Linked DNA regions of Homo sapiens. The protein of the gene in region 1 purifies or fractionates together with the protein of each later gene. This does not show direct contact. Each region holds a gene or a part of one and is shown in the gene's direction. Other genes may lie near its edges.

Region 1 (9,737 bases):
CTTCGCCAAGACTGGGTGAGGGCCAGAGGGGCTGGGCGGGGCTGGGCGGGGCCCTCCCTCCTTCACATGGCCGCCGTTCCTCTGTTAAGGCACTCACTCTGGCCTGCCCTCTTGCTCGAGTGAAACCAACCCAGACACCTCTGTGCCAGGCACGGAGTTGAGCGTTGGAGACTCAGCAGTATCAGACAGAGAAGCCGCTGTCCTTTCTGGGGAGTTGGGGGCCCACTCAGTGGCTTTGGCTTGGCGTCTGTCTCTCCCTCCTCCTTGCCTGATCCCCCCTGCCCGACCCCCCTAGGGCTCTGCATCTCTGGCTGACTGCTCAGGTGTGTGTGTCTGAGTGTGTGTAAGAGTTTGTGTGTCTCTACTTCTGTCTCTGTCTCTCTGAAAATCCACTGACAGCTCTCCACCTCCCTCTGCTGCTCTCTTTTGTCTGCTTACTTTTCGCTTTCTCTGGCTGCCGGCTGATTTCAGCCTGGCTGTGTATCTGTCTCTGGCTGTCCCTCCCGTGTCTTTGACCCTGTCTGTGTTTCATTCAGGCTCAGCTTCTGCTTCTCCCTGGCTATCTCTGTGTGTGTCCCTGCCCCTCTGCCCGCATTTCTGGCTGTCTCTGCCAGTCTGTCTCCATCCCTATTTGCCTATTTGCCTGAAGAGACAGGCAGTTTCTCTGTCTCTTCATATCCATCTGTGTCTCTCTGCCTCTGTGACTTTTTCTCTGGCTTTCTTGCTGTCCCCCTGTCTCTCTGCATCTCTGTCTGTCTCCCTGCCCACTGCCATCCACCCTCCTTCAGAGCCTTGCCCTCACTCCTCCTTTCCCTGCCCTCCTGTGCCCACAGGGACCCCAACCAGCCGGTGCCGCAGGATACCAAGTTCATCCACACCAAGCCCAATCGCTTCGAGGAGGTGGTGTGGAGCAAATTCAACAGCAAGGAGAAGCAGTATCTGCACATAGGCCTGAAGCCACGCGTGCGTGACAACTACCGCGCCAACAAGGTGGCCTTCTGGCTGGAGCTCGTGCCCCACCTGCACAACCTGCACACGGAGCTCTTCACCACCACCACGCGCCTGCCTCCCTACGCCACGCGCTGGCCGCCTCGTCCCCCCGCTGGCGCCCCGGGCACACGCCGGCCCCCGCCGCCTGCCACCCTGCCTCCCGAGCCCGAGCCCGAGCCCGGCCCAAGGGCCTATGACCGCTTCCCCGGGGACTCACGGGACTACTCCACGGAGCTGAGCGTCACCGTGGCCGTGGGTGCCTCCCTCCTCTTCCTCAACATCCTGGCCTTTGCTGCCCTCTACTACAAGCGGGACCGGCGGCAGGAGCTGCGGTGCAGGCGGCTTAGCCCACCTGGCGGCTCAGGCTCTGGCGTGCCTGGTGGGGGCCCCCTGCTCCCCGCCGCGGGCCGTGAGCTGCCACCAGAGGAGGAGCTGGTGTCACTGCAGCTGAAGCGGGGTGGTGGCGTCGGGGCGGACCCTGCCGAGGCTCTGCGCCCTGCCTGCCCGCCCGACTACACCCTGGCCCTGCGCCGGGCACCGGACGATGTGCCTCTCTTGGCCCCCGGGGCCCTGACCCTGCTGCCCAGTGGCCTGGGGCCACCGCCACCCCCACCGCCCCCCTCCCTTCATCCCTTCGGGCCCTTCCCCCCGCCCCCTCCCACCGCCACCAGCCACAACAACACGCTACCCCACCCCCACTCCACCACTCGGGTATAGGGGGTGGGTGGGGAGGCCCTCCTCCCCGGCCCTCCCTGGCCCGGCCACTCCGAAGGCAGGGAGGAGGACTTGGCAACTGGCTTTTCTCCTGTGGAGTCGTCACACGCCATCCAGCAGCGCTAAGGTGGACATGGGATTCCTCCCTGCGATGCGTGTCTTTCCCACGCAGAGAAGCCCAGTCTCTTCTCTGGATCTGGGCCTTTGAACAACTGGGGGGCGTTTTCTCCCCCCCATTGGGACACCAGTCTTCGGTGTGTGGAATGTGGTATTTTCCCGCGTGGAGGTGTGCTTTCTCACAACGGGGTGTGTTTTCCCATGTGCAGGGTGAGGTTTTTTTTTGCCACCCTGGACACATGTTGGCCCCCTCAAAGAATTTCTGTGGGGATTTGTACCCCAGAATCCTGTTCCCCCATCCCTTCTCCCACCTCCTCCCCTCTCCCTCCCCCTGGAGACCCTGGAAGTGGTGTGTTCACATACAGTGACCCTTGGCCACCAGACCACAGAGGATGGAGCCTGGGAAGCAGCGAGGAAATCACAGCCCCCTCGCCCCTGCCTCCCTTGCCCCTACCCCGGCGAAGCATGTTCCCCCCGACGCCCCCCTTGGCACAAGTCAGATGAAGCACGTTCTGCCGGGGAGGCCCTCACCTTCCAGAGAGGACAGACACAGATTTCCTGCTGGGGGAGGGAGGAGTCCACGCATCCTGATGCTGCCTGGAAGCTTATTTTCCCGTGGCCAGGACGCATTTCTCTGAGTGGAAACAGGTTCTTGCATGTGGATGTGTGTTTCCCCAGGCAGACGGCCCCTCTCTTCCCAGCACTTCCCTGCCTCCCCCAGGCCTCAGGCCCAGCACCCAGTTCCTCCTCACATGGCAGGTGAGCACAGACTTCTAGTTGGCAGGAGCTGAGGAGGGTGAACAAACCCCGAGGGAGGCCCGGCCCTTGCTCCCGAGTTGGGGGGAGGGGGTGTGGCAACGTGCCCCCCGCAGAGGCCACGCATGTTTGACCAAAGCCCTCATTGTGGTCCGAGGACAGCCTTTTCCCCAGGCCTCAGAGCATTGCTCATCCGTGCCAAACTGGGTAGGTGGATTTGAGCGGAAAGACTCCCAAAATGTGCCAAGAATTTCCCAGTCCCAGGCAGGGCAGGGGAAACTAAGGGCAAGCAGGATACAGGGCGAGGGATGTGGCAGGTGAGGGGGCTCCCGCCTGTGCCCCTTCTCCTCACCATGTCTCCCCCACCCTGCCTCAGTTCTCCGTTCCCCTTCATCTCCGTCCCCCTCTTTGAAGCTGTCCCCATCTCAGTGTCAGACCAGCCTTCTCCTCAGCTGACCACCCTCCTCTGACCCACGCCCCCTCCTTGTCTGAAAGAAAGGAGCCTTGAATGGTGGAGGGAGGCAGTGGGGAGAAAGGTCTCACCGGACAGGTTGGGAGAATGAGGTCAGCGGTGCTGGGGAACAGATGGAGGGGGCAGTGGGGACAGGGCTTGGGCAGACACCAGCAGGAATAATTTGAAATGTGTGAGGTGACTCCCCGGAGGGCCTTGGGCTTGGGCATTTGGGAAAAGAATGATGTCTGGAAGGGCTTAAGGGACACAGTGGACGAGGGGAGAGTCCTCATCTGCTGGCATTTTGTGGGGTGTTAGTGCCAAACTTGAATAGGGGCTGGGGTGCTGTCTTCCACTGACACCCAAATCCAGAATCCCTGGTCTTGAGTCCCCAGAACTTTGCCTCTTGACTGTCCCTTCTCTTCCTACCTCCATCCATGGAAAATTAGTTATTTTCTGATCCTTTCCCCTGCCTGGTCTAGCTCCTCTCCAAACAGCCATGCCCTCCAAATGCTAGAGACCTGGGCCCTGAACCCTGTAGACAGATGCCCTCAGAATTGGGGCATGGGAGGGGGGCTGGGGGACCCCATGATTCAGCCACGGACTCCAATGCCCAGCTCCTCTCCCCAAAACAATCCCGACAATCCCTTATCCCTACCCCAACCCTTTGCGGCTCTGTACACATTTTTAAACCTGGCAAAAGATGAAGAGAATATTGTAAATATAAAAGTTTAACTGTTGGTTGTGCCTGCTCTGTTGTGGGGAGGGCGGTCTCTAAAGAAACAAGCCCTGGGGAAGTGACGAGGGAGGAGGGGTCTTTTCAGTGACCAGCTCTGAGGTCTGAGAGGAAGGGGGAGTGTGTGCTGGGGTCTGGTTGCCATGGTAATGGGTCTGTTTGGCAAATGAATGTCAGGACCCGTGTCTATGCCGAGACTGGAGCCTGGTGTCGTTCTATAATGGAAGGACAAAGGCTGATGGGGGCAGATGTCAAACAGGCCAGAGGCCCAGTGGGCTGGTGTAGGCAGCTAGCTCAGCAGAGGTATGTGAGGTGAGAGGCATGGCCTCTGCCAAGGCCTGGACTCAGGCGAGAGGGTCAGCCACGGGTCCAGGACTCAGGGTAGCCCCTTGGCACACTGGAAGGGAGTGGCCTGGCACCATTGTGACCCGTTCACTCCCAAGACCCTCAGGGACAGGCAGGCAGTCAGTGGACACTGTCGGCACGGTGGGCTGGGGGCGTAAGGGCCCCGGTGGTCCTAGGGACCCCATGGCCATGGTTGAGCGGCCGAGGCCCGAGTGGGCCTCGTATCACAACTGCAACAGCAACAGCTGCCAGGACCTGGGCAACTCTGTCCTGTTGCTGCTGGGCCTCATCATCTGCATTAACATTAGCATCAATATAGTGACCCTGGTCAGGGTGGGGCCAGATGGGAGGGAGCTGGTGGGATAGTGGGGGGCAGGCCTGCCGGCCAGGGCCTACCTGGGATCACTGTGTCTTCCCCCACCTAGCTCTGGAGCCGATTCCGTGGTGTCTTATACCAAGTGTTCCATGATACCATTTGTGAGAAAGGTAAGAGGTCTGGGGGCTGGGACATAGGAGGGGCAGAAACCAAGTGCTCTAGCCTCAGCCCTAAATTAGCCCCTTCCCTTCTTGCTCGCCCCTCTCAGACAACATAGCTGTGTGGCTGCCCTTCCTGGGCCCTGCCTCTCCATGCCTGTAGGAGCTGGCCTCCCCACTAGTCTCACCTCTCCCCCATCCACAGAAGCTCCCAAGTCATCATTACTCAGAAAGCAGACCCAGCCCCCTAAGAAGCAGAGTTCTCCTGCAGTCCATCTTCGGTGCACCATGGACCCTGTGATGATGACTGTGTCCCCGCCCCCAGCTCACCGCCATCGCCGTCGAGGCTCTCCCACACGCTGTGCTCACTGCCCAGTAGCTTGGGCTCCTGACACTGATGACGAGAAGCCTCATCAGTACCCAGCCATCTGCTCCTACCACTGGGATGTCCCTGAGGACTGGGAAGGCTTCCAACACACTCAGGGGACCTGGGTTCCCTGGTCTCAGGATGCCCCAGAGTCCCCTCCCCAGACCATCCGCTTCCAGCCTACCGTAGAGGAAAGGCCCCTCAAAACAGGCATATGGTCCGAGCTGGGCCTAAGGGCCTATGTGTATCCTGTGAACCCCCCACCTCCCAGCCCTGAGGCTCCTAGCCACAAGAACGGTGGGGAGGGGGCGGTGCCAGAGGCAGAGGCGGCTCAGTACCAGCCTGTCCCAGCTCCCACCCTGGGCCCAGCAGTCATCCCTGAATTTTCCCGGCACCGCTCCTCAGGCCGAATAGTGTATGATGCCCGGGACATGAGACGGCGGCTTCGGGAACTGACCCGGGAGGTGGAGGCCCTGTCCGGCTGCTACCCCCTAGCCTCTGGATCCAGCACTGCCGAGGAGACAAGCAAGAATTGGGTGTACCGTTCCCTAACTGGGAGGTGACTGGAAAAAAATAAAAAGGAGAGAGGAGGTGATCTGTGGTGGTGCTGGGGTGCCAGGGCCCACACAGCACCTAGAAGCTGTGGCTGTGAAGAGAATGCTCTCCCTAGCCACAGGGCCCTGAGCCCTGAGGACCCTCATTAACCTTTTGCCCCACAGGCCTGTCCCTGTCCTCAGCCTTTCCTAGGCCCTTCTGGGTTCCAAGGCTCTTACCTGCCTCTACCTTGTTTTCAATTTTTTTTTTTTTTTGAGACAGGGTCTTCTCTGTTGCCCGGGCTGGAGTGCAGTGGTGCAATCACAGTTCACTGCAGTCCCAACTGTCTCCCACCTCAGCCTCCTGAGTCACTAGGACTACAGGCATGGGCCACTAGTTTGTTGTTGTTGTTGTTGTTTGTTCGGTTGGTTGGTTTTTGTGTGGGGGGGGTTGTTTTTGTTTTTAAGACAGAGTCCTATTCTTGTCACCCACACTGGACTGCAATGGCACAATCTTGGCTCACTGCAACCTCTGCCTCCCAGGTTCAACCAATTCTCCTGCCTTCAGCCTCCTGAGTAGCTGGGACTACAGGCGTGTGCCACCATGCCCTGCTAATTTTTGTATTTTTAGTGCAGATGGGGTTTTGCCATGTCGGCCAGGCTGGTCTTGAACTCCTGACCTCAGGTGATCCGCCCGCCTCAGCCTCCCAAAGTGCTGGGATAACAGGTGTGAGCCACCCCACCCCAGCCGCACCACTATTTTTTGTAGAGATTGGGTTTCACTACTTTGCCTAGGCTGGTCTCAAACTCCTGGGCTCAATCGATCTGCCTGCCTCAACCTCTGAAAGTTCTGGGATTACAGGTGTGAGCCACTGTGCCCGGACTGTTTCCTCCCCCTCCCCTGAGGCAGGGTCTTGATCTGTCACTCAGGCTGGAGGGCAGTGGTGCAATCATGGCTCACTGGAGACTCAACCTCCTGAGCTCAAGCAGTCTTCCTGCCTCAGCCTCCTGAGTAGCTGGGACAACAGGCACCACCACGCCCAGTTAATTCCTTGTTTTCTTTAGTGCACAGAGAAGCCCCTAAATTCTACCCCAGGTCCCCAGGCAGTCGTGCACTAGAGGAGAGATCTCCATCTCCATGGCCCTAGCTCCTCAGAAGGCTGGTGCCTGCCAGAGCCCAGCGTTAGGCTGCAGCCACCGGTGAGGCCTGGTTCCCACGTAAGCCCTGATTTATTTGGGGAGGGATGGCTGAGAGGGCGTCTAGTCCTTCACAGTTCCCCAGTCACCCTGAAGGTCCTATACCCTTAAGCAGGATTGGAGCAGAGGAGGAAATATTGGGGCCCCCTTGGCTGGGCGCAGTGGCTAACGCCTGTAATCCCAGCACTTTGGGAAGCCGAGGCGGGCGGATCACGAGGTCAGGAGGTCGAGACCTCTTGGCTAACACAGTGACACCCCGTCTCTACTAAAAAATGAAAAATAAAAAATAAAAAAATTAGCTGGGCATGATGGTGGGCGCCTGTAGTCCCAGCTACTTGGGAGGCTGAGGCAGGAGAATGGTGTGAACGTGGGAGGCAGAGGTTGCAGTTAGCCAAGATGGCGCCCCTGCACCCCAGCCTGGGCGACAGAGCGAGACTCCATCAAAAAAAAAAAAAAAGGCCGGGCGTGGTGGCTCACATCTGTAATCCCAGCATTTTGGGAGGCCGAGGCGGGCAGATCACAAGGTCAGGAGATTGAGACCATCCTGGCTAACATGGTGAAACCCCATCTCTACTAAAAATATGAAAACAAAAAATTAGCCGGGCGTGGTGGTGGGCGCCTATAGTCCCAGCTACTTGGGAGGCTGAGGCAGGAGAATGGTGTGAACCCAGGAGGCGGAGCTTGCAGTGAGCCGAGATTGCACCACTACACTCCAGCCTGGGCAACAGAGCGAGACTCCATCTCAAAAAAAAAAAAAAAGAAGAGAAATATTGGGGCCCCCCTCAAGAGGTACCTCACTGTAACATCACAGCTCTCTGTGACCTCACTCCTTTGATTAACTCACCATGTCACCAGTGAGGAGACTAAGTTCAGAGAAGCTAAGGGTCTTGCTCATGGTTACACAGACACTGAGGATCAAGCTCATGGCCTCAGATGCTCCATCCCATTGCTGCAGAGCCAGCCTGACCCACCAGAACCTCCCACCTTCCCCAGTTCACCATGTGAACTCAGAAACTGAGAAACAGAGAAACTCAGGCCCTGCCTTTCTGCTACACAATTGGGATCATATGCACATGCACACACATACCACTTGAGAACAAGCAGCTGTGTGCGTGAGCCCAGGCTGAGGGAGCTGGACTTCACCTTCCACTCTAGACAGATTCCTGGAATGTGAGCAGACGGACCGTTTACAAATGGCCCTACTTCTCTCATTCAACTAACGTTACTGATCATTTTCAATGGATTCCATTCAGTGGAATCTGAATCTACTCTGCATCTACTCTGTGTTTGGAGGCTGGATGGGATATGATCACTGGCCTTTCTTTCTGCTGAGTGGTTCACTGTGTAAACAAATGGCTTGCAGTCTCCAGGGCACCACAGACCCCAGTGATGCACCTGTTTTAAGTCAAACACTCTTTTTGGTATATTAACAATTACATGTATTTTGTGCTTTGTTAATTTCATGTGGTTTTCTTGTTGTTGTTGTTGTTGTTGTTGGGTTGTTTGTTTGTTTTGAGACAGTCTCACTCTGTCACCCAGGCCGGACTTCTGTGGCGCGATCTTGGCTCGCTGCAACCTCCACCTCTCAGGTTCAAGCAATTCTCCTGCCTCAGCCTCCCAAGTAGCTGGGATTACAGGCGCCCACCAACATGCCCAGCTAATTTTTGTGTTTTTAGTAGAGGTTTCGCCATGTTGGCCAGGCTGGTCTCAAACTCCTGACCTCAGGTGGTCCACCTGCCTGGGATTATAGGCGTGAGCCACTGCGCCCAGCAAGTTTCCTTCCTTCCTTCCTTCCTTCCTTCCTTCCTTCCTTCCTTCCTTCCTTCCTTCCTTCCTTCCTTTCTTGTTTTTTTGGAGACAGATTCTCGATGTGTCACCCAAGCTGGAGTACAATGGCGAGAGCTCAGCTTGCTGCAACCTCCACCTCCTGGGTTCAAATGATTCTTCTGCCTCAGCCTCCCGAGTAGCTGGGACTACAGGCGCGCATCACCACACCCAGCTAATTTTTGTATTTTTAATACAGACGGGGTTTCACTATGTTGGCCAGGTTGGAACTCCTGACCTCAGGTGATCCAGCCACCTCAGCCTCCCAAAGTGCTGGGATTATAGGCATGAGCCACCGCGCCCAGCTCGGGTTTTCTTCAGGTAGTAGCTTAACCGTTTTTCACCTTGGAGTAAGGGTGGGTTGGTGGGAGTGTAGGTGGTTAGGTTGGAGAAACCATGGCTGGGGTTGGTTCCCAGCAGAGGCAGCCACCTCAGTGAGTCAGATGTCAGTGTGACGAAGTGGCTGGTGGGCTCAAGGACCACCAACACCTAGGGCTGGAGTCTGGCCAGGAAGAATTGGGCAGAGATGGGAGCTAGAGGACTTTTGACAGGGAAATGGGCAGAGTAGGGAGGGGCTGGTACAGCAGGGTGATGCCTGAGGGGACGCAGTGTCACCCGCCCATCTAGTCACCCTAGATGCTGGCCCCAAAGTAACCATGGGGCAAGGCACGCCAACAGGCTATGTAAGTTGCCATAATGTCTCAAAAGAACAATGAAACAGGACATATCTGATGCATGCTTCAACCCTGTGACGACCGTGTCAGCCTCTAACTACCCTATCTTCAGCTCAGGAACCAGCTGTGGGGTTAAGCAAACCTCGTGGAGATAGAGGAACAGACTGAGATCTGGGATATGTGGGGACCAGGCTCCACCAAGTAGGAGCCAAGGGTGGAGATGGCGGTAGAAGGGGCCAGCAGAATGGATAAAAGCTGCCACCTCCACATTGTGACTCTCGCTAGCTCACCTCATTGTGACCTGGCTCCCTTACCAGCTTGTAGTTATCTCCGGGGATTGGCATGAGTGCAGTGTGGGTTGGGGCCGGGGGTGGGGGGCAGAGGGGGGTGGCCCAGGTGGCCCTAGGACCCCCCCTCCATGGAAAACCAGCTATGGCATAACACCGTGAGATGTTGCAATCAATACCAAGAAAGCCCCCACGATGCCGAGGACATCTTACTCCTGCTGCTGGGCCTCATCGTTCTTGTCAACATTGGCATCAACGTGGCAACTATGGTC
Region 2 (10,611 bases), on another chromosome or scaffold:
GGAACACAGGACGGGTGTGCAGACTTCGTATTTCCCTCCAAGTTTTTACCTCCGCCTAGTGTTTTCCTTGCAAAGGAAAGTCCCTCTCGAAGTCTAACCTTAATCCCTCCTGCTGCATGCCTAAATCCCCTTTCCATCTTTTCTCTATAATACAACCCCCTTTAAAATCATAAATGCAATCTTCCTCTCGCGTTTAGTCTCCTCTCCTGCAGCGCCCCTCTACTTTCCTAGCCCCAACAACCTGCTCCGGCTAGGAGAAGTTCTTCCTAGCCACTCCCCACCCCAACGCCCTGCCCAAAACTCCGAGGACACTGAGGTATCTGCCTGAGCTGTCCACTACGACGGCTCCCGGGCCACGCCCGGACTCGGCGGCCCGCGGGGCGGTGACCCCCGCAGCCGCCGGTGCAGCCACGACGGGGTTAAGGTTCCGGGCTGGGGGAGGGGGAGGGGGCCGGGAGGGGCGGGTGCGGAGCCAATCGGCGGCGGCAGAGTCCCCGGAGCCGCGAGCTGGGAGCGCTGTGCCGGGAGCCGGGAGCCGAGCGCGCCGGGCTGGGGCCGGGGCCGGAGCGGAGCGGAGAGGGAGCGCGCCCGCCCCAGCCCCGAGTCCCGCCGCCTTCCCTCCCGCCGCAGCGCGGGCCCACCGGCCGCCGCCCCAGCCATGGAGCAAGACAACAGCCCCCGAAAGATCCAGTTCACGGTCCCGCTGCTGGAGCCGCACCTTGACCCCGAGGCGGCGGAGCAGGTGCGGAGCAGGGCGGGGCGGCAGGGCACTCGCCCAGCCAAGGACGAGGGACCCCTGGACTGGTGGGACCCAGGATCCCTGCCTAGTCCTCCCTTAGCAGTGCGCCCTTTTGAGGACGAACGCTCAGTTTGCGGGGGGCGGGGGGGGGTCTTCTGTCCCCTCCCCCACCGTCGGAGCCACATCTCGAATCTGTGCTTCTTTGAGACTGACCGAAGGAAGAGCGCCTCCACTCGATGCCTGGCCCCGCGAGAGTCGCTCTCTTCCTCCCCAGTCCTGGGGGAGGGGGCCTGCTTGAGGACACGACCCCTCCCTCCTTAAACAACCCTGCATCCCCCACCCAGTCAACCCCCACTAGAGTTTCTGAGCTTGGTGGTGGCGCTGAAGGGAATCAGCAGCAGTGCGGGAGGGGCCTGGGGAGGGGTCGGTAATGGAGAGGGAGCCTGGAAGGGTGGGAGTTGGAAGAGGAGAAACAGCTCTCCCTGTCCCCTCCTAACTGGGGGCCACCTTGCTGGGCTCCGAAAGTGATAACAGGAAGGGACTGAGGACCACTGAGAGGGCTGGGGCTCCAGGGAGAGGGGAGAGGGGTGGTCGAGTTGTAGGCTGAGGCTCCCTTCTTCAAGTCTCCGCACATGGCCCTTATTCCCAACTCCTGCCCTTTGGAGTGGGGAGTCCAGGTGGGACTGAGCCAGCAGCACTGGGAGGCCAGAGGTGGAGTCTTTCCAGGGGCTGGGGTCCAAGCTGAACAATATGCAAGGGAGAAGCACTGTGACAGCCTTGGCTCAAGGGGTGGGAGTCCAGGGCCCTGGCCCAGCCTCCTAGCCTGGTCTATTTTTAGCTCAGAGCAGCCTGGCAGAGGGGGCAGTGTATGAGAGTGTGTGAGCAAGTGTATGCCTCGGTGAGAGTGAGCGTATGTGTGGAGAGGGTGGCCACCCGTGGTCCTTACTACTCCTTGTTTGCCAAATATTTGCTTATTTGCCTATTGCTCCATCTCTTTGTAATCTCTGTCCATTTGCCTAGACATTCCCATTCCTAAAGAATATCAATTTCCCACAAGGTCAGTTCTCTGTTTCTCTCAACAAGCTGCCAGGCTCTGGCTGGCCACCCCCAACCTGAAAAAAACTTTGTGACCTCTTGGGATGAGGTGGAGAGAGTGTTTTTTGTCATTTTTGTTGCTCCAGCTGTTTGGTAGAATAAGGTCTGATGTGAAGGGAAGCGGGCAGGGGTACACACTCTCCCTACCACTTCAGCTTCCCAATGTGGAGATAGGGTTAGGTACCTGCGTCTCCGTCCTCTCTCTGGCCTGGGGTGAGCCACCACCTCAGAGCTCTAAGGTGTGACTACGGGAAGGCTCTTGGTGAAGCCTCACAAATCTGTAGAGGATGAGGAGGATGGAGAGCCATCAGCATGGGTTGTGTTCCCTGGGAGTCAGGGGAAAGGCTGCTATGCCTGGAGGCAGGGCATCAGCCAGGATAACCTCAGACCCAGGAAAAAGGGCTCAAGAGTCTGGACTGTGGAGGTTGGGGATGCAGTTCCAAGGAGAACTGCCTCCCACTGGCACAGACAGGGCCCGACACCTGTATCTGTTGGGTGTTGGAGGAGGCAGGTGTAGTAGGTGGGTAGGGAGGAGGAGGAGGAAGGCCAGCTGGTTCAGGGATCTAGGAGACAAGGGAGGGGCACAAGGCAATCCTGAGGAGTCAGAGGGAAAAAAGAGAGCCGGGACTTGGGCCTACTTTCACTAATCTTCAGAATTTGTGTCTCTTAGGCCTGAAATTCTTCCTGTGGCCTAACCTCAGCCCCTCCTGCTGTGTTAGGCAAAAAGCTCCAGGCTTGGCAGGTGCTCCTAACCCAGACCAACATGGGAGGGCAAAAGGAGTTGGAAGCTCTGAGTTATAGAGCACAGAGTGGCAGGCGGTGGAGGGGTGCCCACAGCTTCCAGATCCTTGGCATGACTGCTTTGGAAAGAAATCCGAGGCGAAGTTATCACATGCTCCTGAGAGCTAGGATTTGGGATAGGTATGAGAAAAGGAAAAGAGACCATCTACTTATTTCCCACTAGTTCAGGTGCCTGGGAGGTACCTCAGGAAGTCTGACTTTCCTCCTTCCTGCTGTAAGGGTATCACGATTCCCAAGGACTCTGAATGCTTAGAAACCTTGTCCAAAGCAAAGGAATAGGTCAAGGAAGTGATGTGTCCAAGACCAGACAGCCCTGCTGCCCTCTGTCATACTTGCAGTCTCTTTCTTGGGCTCCCCACTCTGATGTTATCTCAACCCACTGATCGCCACTCCACCCTCCTTGTCTCTTTCCTACTACCACCACCACACCCTGCCCCTCCAGGATGGAAAGAAGTAGAGGAGTCTTCTAGTTGAAGGATGGCCCCCACCCCATATACATGAAGCAGATGGTCCCCAGCCCATGTGTATCAGGAATGACCAGAGACGACTCACAGTTAATGTCTGTGCGGCTCATCCATGTGCACACTTACACACATACACAAAGGACTGGTACTGCGGGGACCTTGCAATGTCACCAAAAACAGATGCCACTGAATTCTCCTGGGAAAATGATGCCCTACCCCCACATACCCCCATTCTTTGCATCCTGTTTCTTCTTTGGAAAGAGTTCCCCCCTCAGGCTTAAACAGCCCATCTTACCATAGCCAGTACCCCCCACTTTTCTGGGCATAGAGAGGGGCAGTGTTCACCTCTGTCATCCCCCCACGGCCAGTGGTGATGATTCTAAATAATGGACATGCAAAGATAAGGGTTTGATCATTCAGTGTCCTCATCCTACTCCTCTCAGCCCAGGATAATTCTAGCCCTTTTCCCAGCCCCATTTGCCTTCCCTCCCCACTGCTAACCTAGAGGGTCATCCTCTAACCCCCATCCTTCCACTTGCTTCCAAGCCTCTAAAGCCTCCAGAGAAAGGGGGAAAACTACACCTCCCAGGAGTCCTTGAACTGACTTCAACAACAATCAACTTTATTGGCAGCGTGACAAAAGAACAACAGTGGGGGGAAAGGGGGCTCAGAGGCAGGGCAGTCAGTCAGCTTTATATGTTAATTTCTTAGACTAGGACCTGGAGCCTAGGATAAGATTTTTCAGCTACGCTTTGGGCCCTGACCAGGGTCCTGCCTAGGGCTCCTCCTTGTATTGATATTATATCTACCATGACAAGGATTCCCCCAACCCCATTTCTTGACAAATCAGAAAGGCAATGTATCCAAGGACAGAGAGGACATTAGGGAGTGAGGGGCACAGGCCAGAGGAGATGCACGTTCAGATCCTCCTCTGTGCTGTCCTCCCAGGCTGGGGGGCGCTTGAAAAGGATGCTCTCTCCAGGCGCTGTCACACAAAATGTTAACATCTTGCTTGGGGAGTGGGTTAGAACACTGAGAGAAAGCCCTGTGCCCTCTTAAGTTATTTCTGACCATTGATCCAGGATGGACGGAAGGACAGCAAGCCAGAGATCAATGCATTAGAGCAGATATGCTTAGATGGAGAGCTGGGGCCAGGACCAGGGGGAGGTGGAGAGACAGAACAGGGGAATGGGGGCATGCAGGGAGGCGAGGTGGTCTTCTGGATCCTTAGGATTAGCTCTCCCCAGGGGAGGGGGAGGAGCCCAGGGATGTTCACCCTGGTTCACCAATGTAACATGGCATTTTTTTTTCAACTTTTATTTTAGATTCAGGGGGGTACATGTGCAGGTTTGTTACAAAGGTTTATTACATGGTGCTGAAGTCTGGGATATGATTGACCCAGAGAGTGAACATAGTACCCAATAGGTAGTTTTTCAGCCCTTGCCCTCCTCCCTCCCTCTCTTTTATTCCCCAGTGTCTATTGTTCCTATCTTTATGTCCATGAGTACTCAATGTTTAGCTCCCACTTATAAGTGAGAACACGCAGTATTTGGTTTTCTGTTTCTGCATAAGTTTGCTTAGGATAATGGCCTCCAGCTGCATTAACATGGCATTTTTTGAGGTGTGTTAAGTAGGCTAGCCTGGATTATGTTACTGAGTGGTTTTGGGTGGGGCTTTGATGCTTCCACGTGTACTTGACCTCTTCCCCATTTCCCACCTTCCCTCAGATTCGGAGGCGCCGCCCCACCCCTGCCACCCTCGTGCTGACCAGTGACCAGTCATCCCCAGGTAAGCCAAGGGATAGGTTGCTGAAGGGCGTGGGGGCCACTATGGCAGCAGGTCCCAATGAGAAGATGGGCGCTAGATGGAAGAAGAACAGCTCTGAGAAGGCGGGGATGTCCTCAGTACTGAAGGCAGGAAGGTGGTGGCTAGATTGCAGAATATTCTTTGCTTTTGGAAAGATGGAGCAGTTCTAGGAAAGGGAGGGAGACCACCTGGCTCCTAAGCCCCCCAGGAATTGGGGTGGTCAACTGAGTGCTGGTTGCTGCGACAACAGCCTTCCAGATTTCTCCAGCAACTGAGATGCTGCCACCCCCACCCCCAGAGGCAGTGTCAGCTGTGAGGGGGAGGGACCGCCTCCACCAGCTCTTCACAGCCCCCAGAGGGGGAGGGGAAGGTTAGAAGCAGCTCAGGGAGCAGCTGAGATTCTGGTCACCAGCATCCCCATCGAGGTCTGGGGAGAAAACAAGTTCTCAGAGAATGGTAGAGAGCTTGACAGGAGTATGGAAGCGAGGGGGACAGGCTAAGAAGCTAGGCTGGGGTTCAGGATGCCGGGGTCTCCAGCTTGCCTCCAGCTATACCTTCCAGACCCTGCACAGAATAAATTGACTGTCCTCTATCACTGTTCCCTCCTATGCAGGGCTTAGTTCTGGCTGACCCTGGGGTGGGGGAATGATTGGAAAGAGAAAGAGACATGGATACTTCAGAGGAGGAAAAAAAGCAAAAAGACTACAGATCCTGCCTTTGGGGATCTCCAGGTCTGAGGCAAAGATGCAGACGCAAATTGACCACAGAGCCAAGGACGGGACTAGATGCAGAGGGATGGAGGCAGCGGAAGCACAGGAGAGGAGCTTCGGGGAGGAGGTCTGGGGCAGCCATGAGGGCCAAGAGCCTGGGGGCAGATGTGAGGGACAGATCAGGAGGAGCATGGCTGCAGAATCCCCTCCCCTGAGAAGTCAGCTCTATGGGGATCCCTGGTTTCCTGTCCTTATCACCCTCTCCTTTCCCTGTTCCCTTCAGAGATAGATGAAGACCGGATCCCCAACCCACATCTCAAGGTGAGCTGGCCCATCCCACTAAGCCCAGCCCAAAAAACCCCCACATTCATTAGGGGATTATTCCTTAAAACCCTGCCGCCCATCTCTAGGATCTTTTTGACTCCCGCTTCCCTGTACCTCTACCCCCCAAATGTGCATGAGTGAACATATACACATGCACCCCACACACACACACTCACATACACACACACACTCACAGTCTCCTTGCTCACCATTGTCGAGGTGGTTGGGGAAGCAGGCGTTTTCTTACCCCACTTTTTGAAGCTCACACCTACCCCAGGCTCCAATCCAAAAGCCTGGCAAGGCAGAGGAGGAAGGCAAGGGGGGCTGGAGGGCATGGGGGGCTAGAGGGCAAGGGAGGGGTCTGGAGAGCAAGGGGGGGCTGGCGCCCATCTGTGCTCTGTGCCCTTCACAGTCCACTTTGGCAATGTCTCCACGGCAACGGAAGAAGATGACAAGGATCACACCCACAATGAAAGGTTTGCAAGACCCCTCCCATCCCTTTTTCTCCTCTGTGCCTGAAGCTGAAGAGGAGACCGAATGCCCTTTGGAAGGGAGGTCGTTAAATCTGCCTTTATTATGGTAGAACTGTTGCTAGACGAACTGAGGCTGAAATCCCAGTTTTGCCACTGACTAGCTGGGTGATCTGGGAGAAACTGCTTAACTTACTGAGCCTTGAATACTACCTCATTATGGCAGATAAAATAATATATGTGAACTCACCGGCACAGTGCACAACATGTACAAGATACTCAAATTTTTCTTGAATCTAAATTGAGCCTTTCCACCTTCCCCCAGGGAAGACCATGTATCCCAGCAAGTGAGGAGTATCCCTTGTTCTTAAAGCCTCTTCTCCTATGCCTCCCTTATCTGTGAAGAAGAGTACTTTTTATGGTCTAGTTTTCATTCCTCCTTATTGCCAGCTAATGTCCCCTCCTTGTTCAGATCTCAGTGGATGGGAAAGTCAAACACCCAGCAATGTGTGCTGAGCCTTTAGTGGGGCTGTTGAATCCGGAGGCCCACAGGGGAGACGCTAGGCAGTCATATCCAGTGTTCCCTCCCTTTCTCTGTGTCCCCAGAGCTCCAGATGATGGTTGAACATCACCTGGGGCAACAGCAGCAAGGAGAGGAACCTGAGGGGGCCGCTGAGAGCACAGGAACCCAGGAGTCCCGCCCACCTGGGATCCCAGACACAGAAGTGGAGTCAAGGCTGGGCACCTCTGGGACAGCAAAAAGTATGTTCAGGCTGGGGAGGGCCCCAGGCATCCTATTTCCCAGCCCAGCAGGAGGCAAGCCTTACCCACTGCGGGGAGGGGAAAGAGTTGGAGCCTGGGAGAGGCCTAGTAGTAGGCAAAAACTGTCTCAAGGATATGGATCTGTTGGCATGTTCGGCATATATTTGAATCTTCACTTTTCCTTACTGAGTGACACCAAGCCCTCCCAACTTGAACCTCAGAGCCCCACTGTGGCTACATGGGGGAAACCCACCTTCATGGGAACAGCAATCACAGGCTAGAATCCTGGCTCGGCCACTTGCTACCTTACCAGCTGAGAGGCCTTGAACGACTTAACCTCAGGGTATAAAATGATAATGAGGGTGCCTGTTGCAGTGGGTTGTGTGTGACTATTAAATGAGACTGGCTGTTGACACAGCACCCGACACACACAGAGCATGCAATAAGTGGAAGCTGGTAGCAGTGCGCTATGTCCCTTATCCTAGATATATTCCAGAATTCAGAATGCTTCCAATTTTATGAAGATATAGTACATAAACTGTGTATCGCATAGTATTCCCGGCAGAGAACCCTACAATCAAACACATAATATTTCTGCAATCCAGTGAATGGTCTCACTAAGCAGAATAAAGACTAAAAACAGCCTCCTATGAGTTCATGTCAGGTTTAGACACATATTGAGTTTTGTTTTTTAAACTGTAGAGGGTTTATTCTTTCCAATTTGATTGAAGATTTTTTAAAAGTGAACATATAGTAGTAATTGTGATCAAAGAAAACCCTGTTGGTCTTGCCTGATTGCACCCAACTTGGTCCTGGGGCCCTCTCAGGGGCCACTGGGGTATGGGTGCAGTGAGGAGAAGCAGTTCCCTCCCCAACACCTTTATGAATGCCACCTCTTCCTCCCACCCCTATGTTCCCTCCCCAGAAACTGCAGAATGCATCCCTAAAACTCACGAGAGAGGCAGTAAGGAACCCAGCACAAAAGAACCCTCAACCCATATACCACCACTGGATTCCAAGGGAGCCAACTCGGTAAGACCCCAGGGCTGGGCTGCCAGGTCATAGGAGAGGAGGCTAATATTGTGGACAAAAGCAAGGGGCTAATATTTGGAGTCTAGGAAAAGGAAAACAAAGAACCAGCTTCAGTCCCTAAAAAGTTATTCTTTATGGTAAAAGGACTTGTATCTCCTCTGACAGACAAAAAGAAATGGATAGCTGCAGCAAGAAGGATTGAGATTAGACTTTGTGTAGGACTTCTGGCTCCTGGAATGGGTGAGAGCAGTAGGCCATGGATTTTTTGATAAAGGGGATTTGGAACCCGAAGGGAGATCCTCACCTGCCCAGCTGAAGTGGGCAGTGGCTCTCCCTGCCTGGAGGATGCATTGATGAGATAACTTCCTGAGCTTTGATTTCATAATCCGCAGCCCCCTGCATAGACTGGACACAGGAAGGACTGCTCTCAGACATCAGAACAAGCTTTCTGAGACATTAGATGTTGACAAATGGGATGGCCAGAAGGGGAAGGGACAAAATGACCCTCTGGCCTCTCACCTTCTCTTTCTGTCCCCTTTCCCCCATAACAGGTCTGAGAGAGGAGGAGGTATCTTGGGATCAAGACTGCAGTTTGGGAATGCATGGACACCGGATTTGTTTCTTATTCCTTCACTTTTGGGGAAAATCTCTTGTTTTTAAAAAGTGATAAATTTGGTGTTAGGTCCTTGGCACTTTCCTTCTTTTCCAACTGGGAGAATCCTTTCTCCCTGCCTTCTTGCCCTGCCCTCTCTGTAGCCCCCACCCTCCTGCCAAGCTGCCTCTGGGAAGGAAGAAACAGGAGCTAGGCAGAAGCCTTGAGCAGGGAAGAGTTCTTCCCTTAGCCCTGACTTTACTTGCTGTGGGAAGAGAGATGAGGGTCAGATAGGTGGGAGGACTAACTTCCAGGGTGCCAAGAAGGAAGAAAAGCCCCAGGTTCTCTTTTCTTATTGAGGAACGATCCGACCACCTCACAGGCCTGCCCTGCAGCTGGAAGACTCGGCGCTCTAAGGCCTGTGCCGTGTCCAGCTGTGACTGTGCGGTGGGCTCCATCTGCTGGACAAAAGGGGAACTGCACCATGGCACTTGGCCCATGGGAAAGAGGGTATGGTGGTGTGCCGATACCTCCTCGCCTGCCCTCCAAGCCCCAGCTGCCTTCCTTTTGGATTCCCAAGCTTCAGGATGTGTTCCCTCTTCCAGCTGTGGGACCGCTGTCCCTTATTTCAACCCGTTAGCAACAATGGATAGAGAACACAGTGGCTATTAATGAAGAGGCCCATGCTGGAGACTGGAAGGGTTCCCTTGTCCTAGACATTGAGGGGCCCAGATAAGACCAAAACCAAGCATAAGAGAAGAAACTGTCTCAGATCTCACGGCCAGGCCTCTCTCCTGCTGCTGTTTTTGATTTTCCCAGGTAGTGGGAGAGAGGAAAGGAGGGAAGGCAAGATTCTTTCCCCCTCCCTGCTGAAGCATGTGGTACAGAGGCAAGAGCAGAGCCTGAGAAGCGTCAGGTCCCACTTCTGCCATGCAGCTACTATGAGCCCTCGGGGCCTCCTCCTGGGCCTCAGCTTGCCCAGATACATACCTAAATATATATATATATATATATGAGGGAGAACGCCTCACCCAGATTTTATCATGCTGGAAAGAGTGTATGTATGTGAAGATGCTTGGTCAACTTGTACCCAGTGAACACACACAGTCAGGCCTGGTCTCCCTTCTTTATTGTTCTCTGGCTATAGCAGGGGTCTGGGAAACCAAGGGCAGGGGTGAGTCACATGCGTCTCTGCCCTTCTCGGGGTGGGGTAGGGTGGAAGTACCAGGGTAGCAGGTCTAGGAGACCATGGATGTGGATTTCGCATGAACAGGGCCCACTGTACAAATGCATGGTTGGTATTTACAAGAAAGAAGGAGGGCAGTCACCTGGACTTTGGCCTTTCCTGGGGCAAGGTGGGGGCAAGGAGGAGCCTGAGGAGAGGAAGGGGCACCGCGCCTGGCTGGGTTCTCTCCAGAGGACAGGAAGGCAGCAGCCCTGAGCCCCTTGTCCATCTGCCTTTCACCGACTACCCCTCACTTGTCTCAGGGGAGGAGCTTCTTAGTGCCTGCAGCTGGGCCAGTTCTGGGACGTGGAGAGGAGGGGACAGACCCTCTCTTTTAGCAATGCAGGATTACTCACCCTCCCCAGGCACCCTTGACCCTAACCCAGCTGGTGTCGATACATTCTGAAGGTGCTTTGCTGGGGAGATCCTCAAAGCACTTTACAGACATTGGTCGGATGGAGCCTCCCAGCCCCAGGGGAGAGGAAGGAGGCAAAGGGCTCCGGACTCAGGGCAGGCGACAAGCCCCAGGGGCCCAGACCAGTCCCAAGGAAGGTCCCAGGAAAGGCCTCCCGCAGCCCCTGGTCACAATGG
Region 3 (10,821 bases), on another chromosome or scaffold:
GAACAAGACAGACAAGGTCCTTGTTGTCATGAAGTTTGCTTTCTGAAGGAGAGAGATAATAAACAAGAAACCAGTAAGAAAGCAAGATTATATCATTTTGGTAAATGTTCTTGTGGAAATAAATGTGATGATGTGTAACAAAAGTACCAAATAGGAGAGTGGGGTGGGTGGGCTTCTTTTAGAAAGAGTTCTCGGAGAAGGCTTATCTGAGGAGGTGGCCTTTTAACCAGTACAAATGCTTTAGCTTGGCCAGTGGAGCTGGGACCAGGATGACAAGGGTCACTTGTCATGCCAGTGAGTTTGAGCTTGTAGACAAGAGCCTGATCATGAAAGACTTTGCAGATGGTGGTAATGGGTTTGGGTTAATTGCTACTATGTGGGAAGACTTTGAATGGGAAGCATGGGGACAATGGCCTGTGATACATGTTATCAAATATGGTCGCAGGGGCTAGTGAGGTGGCAGCAGAGATAGGGAGAAGTAGACGGACTGGGGAAGGTAGAAGATGGGGCAGGGGAGGCAATTACTGCAAAGACATATTCCTTCTAAGCTCACTGAGTGTTCATGGTCTCTGGGAGCAGAGGTTCCTGGAGGGGAAAGAGGATAATGTCACTTCCTGAGGAAGCGGGAAGAACCCATCTGAGACGTGGGGACTGTGCTGGTTCGTTTCTAAGGGGCCTTCCAGATCTCACATGCCAATCGTCTTGGTCTATGTCAATTGTTGGGGCATCCAAATGGGGAACTGTTGTCCAGGCCGATTTCACAGAACAACCGCCCAGTCCATATCTCCCGAGCCATTCACCCTTGCAGTGGCGTTAGCTCTTTCACCAGCTTTTATCTGCCCCGTGGGGATGTTGGCCAAGCCCAGTTAACAAGCAGTTGATCAGCCCCAGAGATCAGGTCCCTGGAGTCTGTCACTTTTCTGAGGGTGGGGAGAGAATCCTGGAGCAGAACATGTAACTAGAAGGGCCACCTGGCTTCCTATGGTCTGAGGGAGAGAATGGTGGGATCTCTGGCCTGAATCAAACCTCCCTTTCTCAGTGTCCATCTTACCTCTCTGCTGTACCTTCGTTATTTTCCAGCAGCTCCTCAGCCCGTTCCTGTGGGACCCTTCTCTGCCAATCCCTACACCCACTGTAAATTTCACCGTGGGAGGGAGATGGGCCTTGAGGGCTGTATTAGTCTTCTATTCTGCATAACAAATTGCCTCAAATTTAGCAGCTTCAAACAACTCATGTTTATTAGCTCATCGTGAGTTCATCAGCAGTGTGGGCCCAGCATGGCTAGGTTTTCTGCTCAGGGTCTCACAAGGCTAAAATCAAGATGTTGTCTGGGCTGTGTGCTCATCTGGAGTTTAGGGTTCTCTTCCAGGCTCACGTGGTTGTGGCAGAATTCTGTTCCCTGGAGTTGCAGGGCTGAGGTCCTGTTTTCTTGCTGACTGTCAGATGAGGGCTGCTCTCAGGTCCTCGAGGCTGCCCACATTGCTTGCCACGTGCGTGGTCTTTTCCATCCTTGAAGCCAGTGATGGAGAATTTCCCTTGGATTGAATCACCCACATGGTTGGACTCTCTGACTTCAGGAAGAGAGCCCTGTCTCTTTTATGGGATCACCTGATTAGATCATACCCATAGAGGGCAGTTCCTTTTCCTTAAAGTCAACTGTGGCATGTAACATCACACAACCACAGGAGTAAAATCCATCATATTTACAGTCCCAGGGATTATGCACAGTGCACCAGGGGACAACTGAATTCTGCCTGTCAAAAGGGCCAAGCAGGACTTTATTGGTGAAGAACAGTGGAATGTCATTCTTGGTTCTTCCAGAAAAAAATCACTCAGTAAAGTTAGAGGTTCTCTTGCCTTTTGGGAAGTCATCAAAGAATCTCATGGAGGGTTTGGACCTTCACCCTAGAAACATCACACCATGTTTTCTATAATTGCAGGGTTCATGGTCCCTTGAAGCCTATTCATAGTTTCCAGGTTGAAAAGCTCTGCTGCAGGGTGTGGGGAGGGATGCAGGTGGAGGTGAGGGCTGAATAGTGTGAGCTGCATATCTGGAGCTGTGGTGGTTTTTTTAGTCTTTAAGCTGTCATGTGTTGGGGGTTGGGCATGGGAGGGGCATCCCAAGAGCTCCTTGGTATTGACACCATCTCCAAGGTGATCTCTGCTCTGCCTGGTGCACACATGTTTTTCTCCTGTTGCAACAGCCCACTCTTGTAGAAGAGCAGACCCCTCAGTACCAGGTCTGACCCTGGACAGCTTGTACCAGGAGCTACAGCACACTCCCCCACAAGCCTAAAGTTGGGATGAGCCCCCCGAGAATTAGATCAGAAAAGATTAAATGCAGAGGTGATCTGTCAGGTCCCCTTTGGAAGTGCTGGTATGGAGAGGATTGACTGAGTCTGTTTAGGAACCTCCAAGCTCTGTAGTAACTTTAGGGCTAGAAAGGAGGATGCCTAAGATTCAGGATCCTGCAGTGATGAGTCAACATTTCTTGGGGAAGGAGGCAGGGCTGAGGATTAAACGGAGATGATGGGTATCGTTCTCTTGCTCAAAGGCACTGGACCCCAAGGCCTCCAGCTCTTCGCTCCCATTTGAAATTCAAGTCCTGAGCACACCACAGTTGTGATGCAGGGAAAGAATGTGCTTATCAGAGAGCCTGGGCAAGTGGGCCCCTTGTGAGTACCGTTCAACCTCATTTATGTCATTGGCACCAAAAGTAGACATCAGTCTCTTGAAAGTTTGATTAATGCTGGTCACACTCAAAGACCCTGGGTAGCATTCATTTACTAAGCAATTACTAAATACCAGTTTCTGTGCTAAATGCTGCATCAGTCAGGGCTCTTAATGGCAGGCAGCAGAAACTCTCCTTGGCTGATCTAAGTAGAAAAATCCAGGACTGAAAGGAAACGGAGTAGCTCATGAAATTGCAGGAAGGGCCGGAAAACCAGACATGGAGCCAAAGTCAGGCTGCAGAACAGGTCTAGGGAGGATCCCACTGCTGCTGAGACCTAGACCTTGTGTCTGGCACCCAGGATGTTGTAGGGCTCAGACCCTGGATCAATGTATCCTGCAGTGCCTCTGTGGGTACTGCAACTCCAGGAACTCAATCTTGTCAACGCCACCGCCAGAGAGAGGCCTTCTTGGCCTCCATCTTTTTGGTCACTAGCTCCAGATTCAAAATCTTGAATAGATGCTTCTTCTCTTTGATAGAGCCCAGTCATATGCGTTAGCTGCAAAGGAAGCTGAAAATCTATTAGGAACTTTTGTCTTCAAAAATGAGAGGCCTGTCCTCCACCAAGATCCATAGGAAATGGAATCCAAGAAACCACAGGAAGGGGTGAGGTGACTGGGCAGCTCACAGCATGCATGCTACATGTGAATTATCTCATTCATTTCTCACACTACCCAGTGAGGTAGGTATTGTCATCCCTACTTCATAAATGATGATATGAGGTACAGAAAGTTTAAGGAACTTGCCCAGGACACGACACGCAGCTATTAAGTGCTAGACCCAGTCAATTTGAGTCTGACTTGGACTGTCTGACTCCAGAAGCCACCCTCTCAGACACTGCTGTATACTTCCAGTGAATGTTGATGAAATTTTCAGGGTTGCTAAGCTGTGGATTTCAGATCCTGGATTGTATGACCTAAAAGAGAGACTTCCCTAGGAGTGAGGGTCCCTGAACAGTCAACTGGTTTCCAAGAATGGGCTCCCTCTCATCACCTTATGACAGTAATCCTCTGTCCAACAGCCAAAGAGGTCCTGTGGGGAGGGCTTGCAGATGGGAGTGCGCAGAGCCCAGCTCAAAGCTCCTGACTAGGCTCTTGTTGAGTATTCCTTTGATTCCTGCTTCTGTCTTTTTAAATCAATGGAGACAGGGGAGGGTTATCTCCATCCTCGGCTCAAGATGAAATGCATCGTTCCTCGTTTTTCTCATTCCTTCCCAATGTGTGTACTGTTAACTTTAGTTATGAAGGAAATTACAGTGTCCTGTGCATATACCAAGGCTGTCCAACCTCCACACCTTTGCTCAAGCTGTTCCTTCTACTTGAAATGCCTGTTTCCTTCCCTTCTAATTGCATCTTTCCATCCAGGTAGGAATCAGCTCCTTGGTTCATGGAGCCTTTTCTGCTCTGTTTTACTATGCATGGACTTCCTTCTGAATTAGCAGAGGATGTTTCCTAGCTTGGTCTTAACCCTTCTCCTTTTGTTTGACCTCAATTTACTCATCTTACAAATTAGGTTGTAAGCTAATTGAATACAGGATCTATGCTTCACTCTGATTTTATCTCCACCTGGATAGCATCATTTTTGACACACAAGCAGGCATATGGGAGGGGAGAGAAGTTTGGTGCCAGAAAGAACTGGATTTGAATTCTAACCCTGTTGTTTACGTGAGTACGTTACTTAACCATTAATTACTTCAATGTATATTTATTAAGTACCTACTATGTGCCGGGCACTGTACTAAGCACCAAGGATACAATGGTGAGTAAAGAGATGCAGCCTTCACCATCACGAAGGAAGACAGATGTTAATCCATTAACCAAGTAATCTCACAAGAAAAGTAAAATGACTAACTGATAAGGACAAGCCCCTGGAGCTACAAGAGGGTGTATACAGGGCATCGATCCAATAAGGGCAGTGTTGCGGGGAGATCAGGAGCCACACAGAGCCTGGGTTGTCTCACTTGGAAAATGGGGTATCAACCACCTACCTCACTAGGTTTTTAAAATCAGGTTAAATGAGGTAATACTTGCCATGAACAGTATTTTGTTGATTGATGATTGATTGAAACGGAGTCTCACTCTCTCGCCCAAGCTGGAGTGCAGTGGTGCAATCTCAGCTCACTGCAACCTCTACTTCCTGGGTTCAAGTGATTCTCCTGCCTCAGACTCCCAAGTAGCTGGGATTACAGGCAGCCACCCCTATGCCTGACTAATTTTTGTATTTTTAGTAGAGACAAGGCTTTGCAATGTTGACCAGGCTGGTCTCAACCTCCTGACCTCAAAAGATCCACCCACCTCAGCCTCCCAAAGTGCTGGGATCACAGGCATGAGCCACTGCATCCAGCCACTTGCCATGCATGGCATTTAAAAATGTTCAGTAAATGTTACCATAATGAAGGCTGGTAGGTTGGCCAACTGAGTGGTCTGATTCAGAAGGAAAGAAGTTAGACATACGTGAACATTTCCTGTACTTGAAGATCCTCAGGACAGTGACTCCTAGACCCATCTTCCATCACAGTCAGCTGGGAAGCTTTTAAAAAAATGCAGACATCTGACCTTCACGCTAGACCTATTAGCCAAGCAGAAGTTTCTGGGCAGGGCATCTGCATATTTTTAAAAATCTTTAATAAGGCAGCCTCAAAATTACAGATTCAGCACGCATTTACCATAACCACTGAAGAAATGCAAAGTTATAAAAAGAAGATAAACAACAATCTGTCTCCTGCTTTCTTCCCTCTCCTCCCCTGCTTCTGGAGGCAACAAGGTCAACTATTTGGTGTGATTCCTTTTAGCATTCCCTCCATCAATGGTCACATAAGGATGCTCACAGATAAGCACCTATGCGGGGGTTTTTTTTTTCCTTGTAAAACTATTCACATACTAAATACTTTCCTCAGTATCTTGCCTTTTTTCACTTCATGTCACAGAAACATCTCTTCAGGTTTATAGATACAGGTCCAGCTCTTCTTTTCATAGCCATATAACATTCTGTAGAATAGAGAGGACACATTTTACTCAGTGTCCGATTGATGGATATCAATATTGTTTTCATTTCTACAAATAGTCAAGGAATAACATAACTCTGTAAAAGTTTTATTACTTATAGGCGCATTTATGCCTAAAGGATAGTCTCAAAAGAGTGAAACTGATCAAATGTGCATTTTTTTATTTTAATAGGTATGGACAGATTTGTTCTCAAAATGTTTGTGGCAGTTCAAAACACCAGTAAAACAGGGGAGATATGTATTTTGGAAAAGCACCCAAGGCGATTCTGAAGTGTAGCCCAGGATAAGAACCATTGCCCAGAGCTGTTCCAGATGGCCCCTGGGTTCCTGAAGTGGGTATCGGGAGAGAAATCTTCACTGAATGAATGAGTGGGCTCCCCAGGGAAGTGATGAAATGGTCCTTATCAGCCTTGCTATCTCCCTCTGACAGAGGCAAACTCTCTCTCCCTGGGGGAAGTTCCTCCAAGGCCTCTATATAAGAAGTCTTTGTGAGAGGAAGCAAAGAAGGACCTGGGCTTTGGGAAGATCTAAAGACCCAGGAAGGTCTCTGGGTGGGTGAGTGCTTTCTCTGCTGTGGTGGAGCTGGTGACAGTTTATTCTCCCAGGAGGTCCCTGGCTGTGGCTGACAGTTTCTGGAGGGCTGGCAGGCGTCTACCTGTGGCTTTCAGGTTATGAGGATGTCAGCAGGGGCAGCCTTCATCCTCTGCCTTGCACATTCCTTCTGCGGGATGTGAAAGTGCTCCTTGGCTGGGGAAAGGAGATGGTGGAGACATGGAGGAGGGTGTGGGTGGCTTCTTGAACTCTGAGGAGGGGACATACCTTCTAAGTCCTATGTGTTCCTAGGAAAGCCAATAATCATTGCTTCTCCCGCCTTTTTTATGTCATAGACTCTGAGGGACCCATTAAGTACAAACAAATAAGCGTAATAGTCCCTTCTTTACTTCCGGGCCTGAAGGAAAGCCAGCCTCAGCCACCCCTCAGGGTTTGCTGCGTTCTGTTTAGAAAGAGGTCCTTGCGTCCTGGATCCTGGAGCATCAGGAGCTGGGCTTGGCATGAGCTTTTCTGGCCCATCCTGATTTCTATTCAGGCCTTCTTTTTCTCCACCTCACTCCCACGGTCCCCTAATGGTGTGATTGTGATGTGTGTGCATGTGTGTCTGTGTGTGTCAATGACAAACTGTGTTCTCCGTTGCAGGATAAAGCCAAGATGAAACTCCCCTTACTTCTGGCTCTTCTATTTGGGGCAGTTTCTGCTCTTCATCTAAGTAAGTGTTTTTTGCCTTCAGTCTTTCTTTCTCTGTTTTTTCCCTTTCTATGGTAGATGGGGTCAGAGTTACACACCCACCCCCTTCTTTGATCGTCTTCTATTTCTGAATTTCTGTGTGCTTAAAGGGATGGGGACTCTATGGCCAGGAGTTGAAAGGATTTCTCAAGGCGTCTGTTATGTCTGTGGTCTTGGTTCTACTGTGACATTCCCAATTTTGTCCTTTCTCCATTATGCTTACTTTGAGCTTACTGAGTGCCTTCTCTCCTTTAACTCTCTTAGCATCGCCATGAAGTAGGTGGTATTGTATACCCATTTCACAGAAATACAGCTGGTGGATGATGGAACCAGTACCCAAGCCCATGACTGCCCGACTCTAAGTCCATGCTCTTAACCACCTTGACCTTGTCAGGCAGCTTGGGTTCCCCTCATAGAGACTGGGTTCCAGGTTCCCCTTCCCAGGCAGAGTTGAGCACTCTGATGCCCAGGGCAAGGTGTGAGCTGTCTGTGGTTCTGGGGAGGAACAAGGGGAGATGTGAAGGAAGGACACTTAGCTATCCTCCCTGCCAGGGTCTGAGACTTCCACCTTTGAGACCCCTTTGGGTGCTAAGACGCTGCCTGAGGATGAGGAGACACCAGAGCAGGAGATGGAGGAGACCCCTTGCAGGGAGCTGGAGGAAGAGGAGGAGTGGGGCTCTGGAAGTGAAGATGCCTCCAAGAAAGATGGGGCTGTTGAGTCTATCTCAGTGCCAGATATGGTGGACAAAAACCTTACGTGTCCTGAGGAAGAGGACACAGTAAAAGTGGTGGGCATCCCTGGGTGCCAGACCTGCCGCTACCTCCTGGTGAGAAGTCTTCAGACGTTTAGTCAAGCTTGGGTGAGTGGCCTATGGCTGAGGCTGAGGTGGGAGCATGGAACGGGTGTGGGATATGCCCCCAGCATTGCTATCACTGGCTCTTTTTCCCATTGAGGGCCCTGGGGGTGTCAGTAGAACCTGAGCCTCAGAGAGGTGTTGGGGTAAGAGGGGAGGGCCACCTACAAACAGAAGTTGCATTTTGGTCTCCAACCTTCAAATGGTTGTGGCAGGGGAGGGAGGGAATGAATTGTGGGGACTCAAGACCCATGTGAATTCATGTAGGAAGGATGCTCCATTCTTTGTCTTTTATCCTGCCCTGTAGTTTACTTGCCGGAGGTGCTACAGGGGCAACCTGGTTTCCATCCACAACTTCAATATTAATTATCGAATCCAGTGTTCTGTCAGCGCGCTCAACCAGGGTCAAGTCTGGATTGGAGGCAGGATCACAGGCTCGGTAAGAGAAGTGTGAACACTAAATGGGGTGCACCTGCTGATCTCAGCCAGCACTCAGCTTGCATCAGATTTGTCTGTTTTTCTCCTGTATAATCTCCAGAAGAACCAGGGATAGATGGACACCCACAGACAACACTGAGGGGGCTGCCTGGGCATTCAGGGAAGAGCTAAGGATTTAGAATCAGGAGGTTTGGGTCCAAGTTCCTTTCCATCTCTCACTATCTATGTAACTTAAGTTAGCTGGGCATGGTGGTGCATGTCTGTAATCCTAGCTACTTGGGAGGCTGAGGCAGGAGAGTCACTGGAACCTGGGAGACAGAGGTTGCGGTGAGCCGAGATGGAGCCATTGCACTCCAGCCTGGGCAACAAGAGCGAAACTCCGCCTCAAAAATAAATAAATAAATAAATAAAATAAAAAAAAAATTAAAACAAGACCATGAGTTTGTTTCCTCATCTCTAGGATGAGTTGGCAACCCTTGTTCTACCTTTTGTTAGGGCTGGAAGGACAAGCCTGTCACTGGGATGCATAGAATCTGATGGTGATAATTGCCGTGGATCAGCATTTCAGATGACTAGGACAGTTCCCATCATGGTCCAGCAGGGAAGGGCCCATTGCCCGGTGGGCAGCAGAAAGAGCTGGCAGATACGGGGCCAGGTCTGCTTCTCTGCCTTCCCTCTGCCCCATCCCTTCTTCCCCTCTTGCTTTCTCCAGGGTCGCTGCAGACGCTTTCAGTGGGTTGACGGCAGCCGCTGGAACTTTGCATACTGGGCTGCTCACCAGCCCTGGTCCCGCGGTGGTCACTGCGTGGCCCTGTGTACCCGAGGTGAGGTGGGGCTGGGGATGAACGATGGAAAGGTCTGGGAGATGGGAAGTGCCCCAAGGAGGAGATGCTACAAAGAGCCTGACCCTTTGTGGGAGAGGCTTCCTGGGTCTTTTATATACTCTGACTCCACAGCAGTGTGTGGGTGGGAAAAGAGGCCCTCCTGTGGGTTGAGTTGGGATGGACAAGAGGCTGAAAGTCCCTTTCTGTTCTGCCTTCACAGGAGGCCACTGGCGTCGAGCCCACTGCCTCAGAAGACTTCCTTTCATCTGTTCCTACTGAGCTGGTCCCAGCCAGCAGTTCAGAGCTGCCCTCTCCTGGGCAGCTGCCTCCCCTCCTCTGCTTGCCATCCCTCCCTCCACCTCCCTGCAATAAAATGGGTTTTACTGAAATGGATTTATTTTCTCCTCTGATCGCGGATCCACTCTGCTTAGCCCTCATTGAAACTTCTTCCTTATCATCTCTCCCCACACCACAACTTTCATAGAAGTGTCAGAAGCTACTACTCCTTGAGGAGGAGGATGGAGGGTGGAGTTGGGTCTATGGAGCCTTTTGGAGATGGAGGAATGGGCTCAGCTAGTTCTCTTCATAGAACACCTGATTACTGGGCACCTGCATAGTGCTGCCAGGACCTTTCAAGGTTGTAGGTAGACTCCCAATGGCCCAGTTTGCATCTCTGTAACCAAAGGCCTTTTCTCTCTCTCTCTCCAACCCCAGAACTGTGGTTGGTTTTATATGTAAGGAAGTTAACATGTCCCTGGGAACAGTCCACAACATTCAGGAATGAATGTATAAGTACCGCAATCCCCGGCCCCTCAAGTGGAATAAATCTAACATGTATTGGGCACCATTTCCCAGTGGCCTGCTGTGGTAGTTGGCCTTATTCCATGCATTTTTATGGGCTGCCTTCCCTTCCTCAACTGCATTCTCTGCTCCTTCCTACTCTCTGCAACTCCCAAATAAACACTTGTACGCAACTCCCTCTCTCAGGATCTCCTTCTGGGGAAACCTGATATAAGACAGCTTGCCATGCGTCAGACTCTGAATGAGGCCTGGGAATACAAGACATAGTCCTCTGGCACTTGGGATATATGGTTATTTGTAACATAGGCACAAAAACATCTACTAGTTGTTATCGCTTATTGAGCACCCACAACATACCCCCTGCTGTGGCAGGCACCTTGCCTAGATGACCTCATGTGATCAATAATTATGAGCCCTATTTTACAGAACCAGGCTCAGAGAAGTTAGGATCTGTCAAAAGACTTGCCCAAGACTGAACCTCTAAATGCAACTCATATTGAAATTCAACTCTGCTCCAAAGCATGTTACTTTAACCCTTGTGCTTTTACAGCTGGCTACTCTCCCCTTATGGTCACACGGGGATGAAGCACGGGGGGAGGAAAGCCAGACTGTCTCACTCTTGGGTTCATCTTGGGACACAGGACACCAGCCCAGCTGGAGGTGAGGGAGCTTTAATCAGAGGGGAGGGAGGAAGGCATTCTCAACCCCTTCTGTACTAGGGAGGTCAGCAGAAGAAAATAATTCAATGTTCTAAAGCCATTTTTTTCTCCAGCATTCCTCCAATTCATAGATCTTCATATGGGATTAGGGGCTCAGAGAGGGGTGAAACAAGAACTCTATTTTTTTGGAGTGTGGTATAGAGAAGGGATGCTACTTCTCTAAGGTCAC

The links.
Region 2: the proteins of SPEM1 (region 1) and PPP1R1A purify together in Homo sapiens (affinity purification with mass spectrometry; 3 studies listed by BioGRID and IntAct, with this or other methods). This does not show direct contact.
Region 3: the proteins of SPEM1 (region 1) and PRG2 purify together in Homo sapiens (affinity purification with mass spectrometry; 2 studies listed by BioGRID and IntAct, with this or other methods). This does not show direct contact.

The regions. Positions count from the first base shown.
Region 1 is NC_000017.11:7,416,093-7,425,829, forward strand, and holds SPEM1 (spermatid maturation protein 1), read left to right. Parts: upstream 1-4,231; 5' UTR 4,232-4,292; coding exon 4,293-4,436; intron 4,437-4,534; coding exon 4,535-4,595; intron 4,596-4,788; coding exon 4,789-5,513; 3' UTR 5,514-5,540; downstream 5,541-9,737. Other genes in the region: NLGN2 (neuroligin-2 precursor), read left to right, coding at 1-15, 834-1,707; uncharacterized protein SPEM2, read left to right, coding at 9,597-9,734. UniProt on the Homo sapiens protein: Required for proper cytoplasm removal during spermatogenesis.
Region 2 is NC_000012.12:54,578,536-54,589,146, reverse strand, and holds PPP1R1A (protein phosphatase 1 regulatory subunit 1A), read left to right. Parts: upstream 1-487; 5' UTR 488-658; coding exon 659-742; intron 743-4,826; coding exon 4,827-4,887; intron 4,888-5,898; coding exon 5,899-5,936; intron 5,937-6,351; coding exon 6,352-6,415; intron 6,416-7,015; coding exon 7,016-7,171; intron 7,172-8,096; coding exon 8,097-8,203; intron 8,204-8,754; coding exon 8,755-8,760; coding exon of another isoform or gene 8,761-8,863; 3' UTR 8,864-9,901; downstream 9,902-10,611. UniProt on the Homo sapiens protein: Inhibitor of protein-phosphatase 1. This protein may be important in hormonal control of glycogen metabolism. Hormones that elevate intracellular cAMP increase I-1 activity in many tissues.
Region 3 is NC_000011.10:57,386,065-57,396,885, reverse strand, and holds PRG2 (bone marrow proteoglycan isoform 1 preproprotein), read left to right. Parts: upstream 1-6,235; 5' UTR 6,236-6,290; exon of another isoform or gene 6,291-6,403; intron 6,404-6,929; 5' UTR 6,930-6,941; coding exon 6,942-6,999; intron 7,000-7,568; coding exon 7,569-7,876; intron 7,877-8,177; coding exon 8,178-8,309; intron 8,310-9,020; coding exon 9,021-9,132; intron 9,133-9,352; coding exon 9,353-9,411; 3' UTR 9,412-10,106; downstream 10,107-10,821.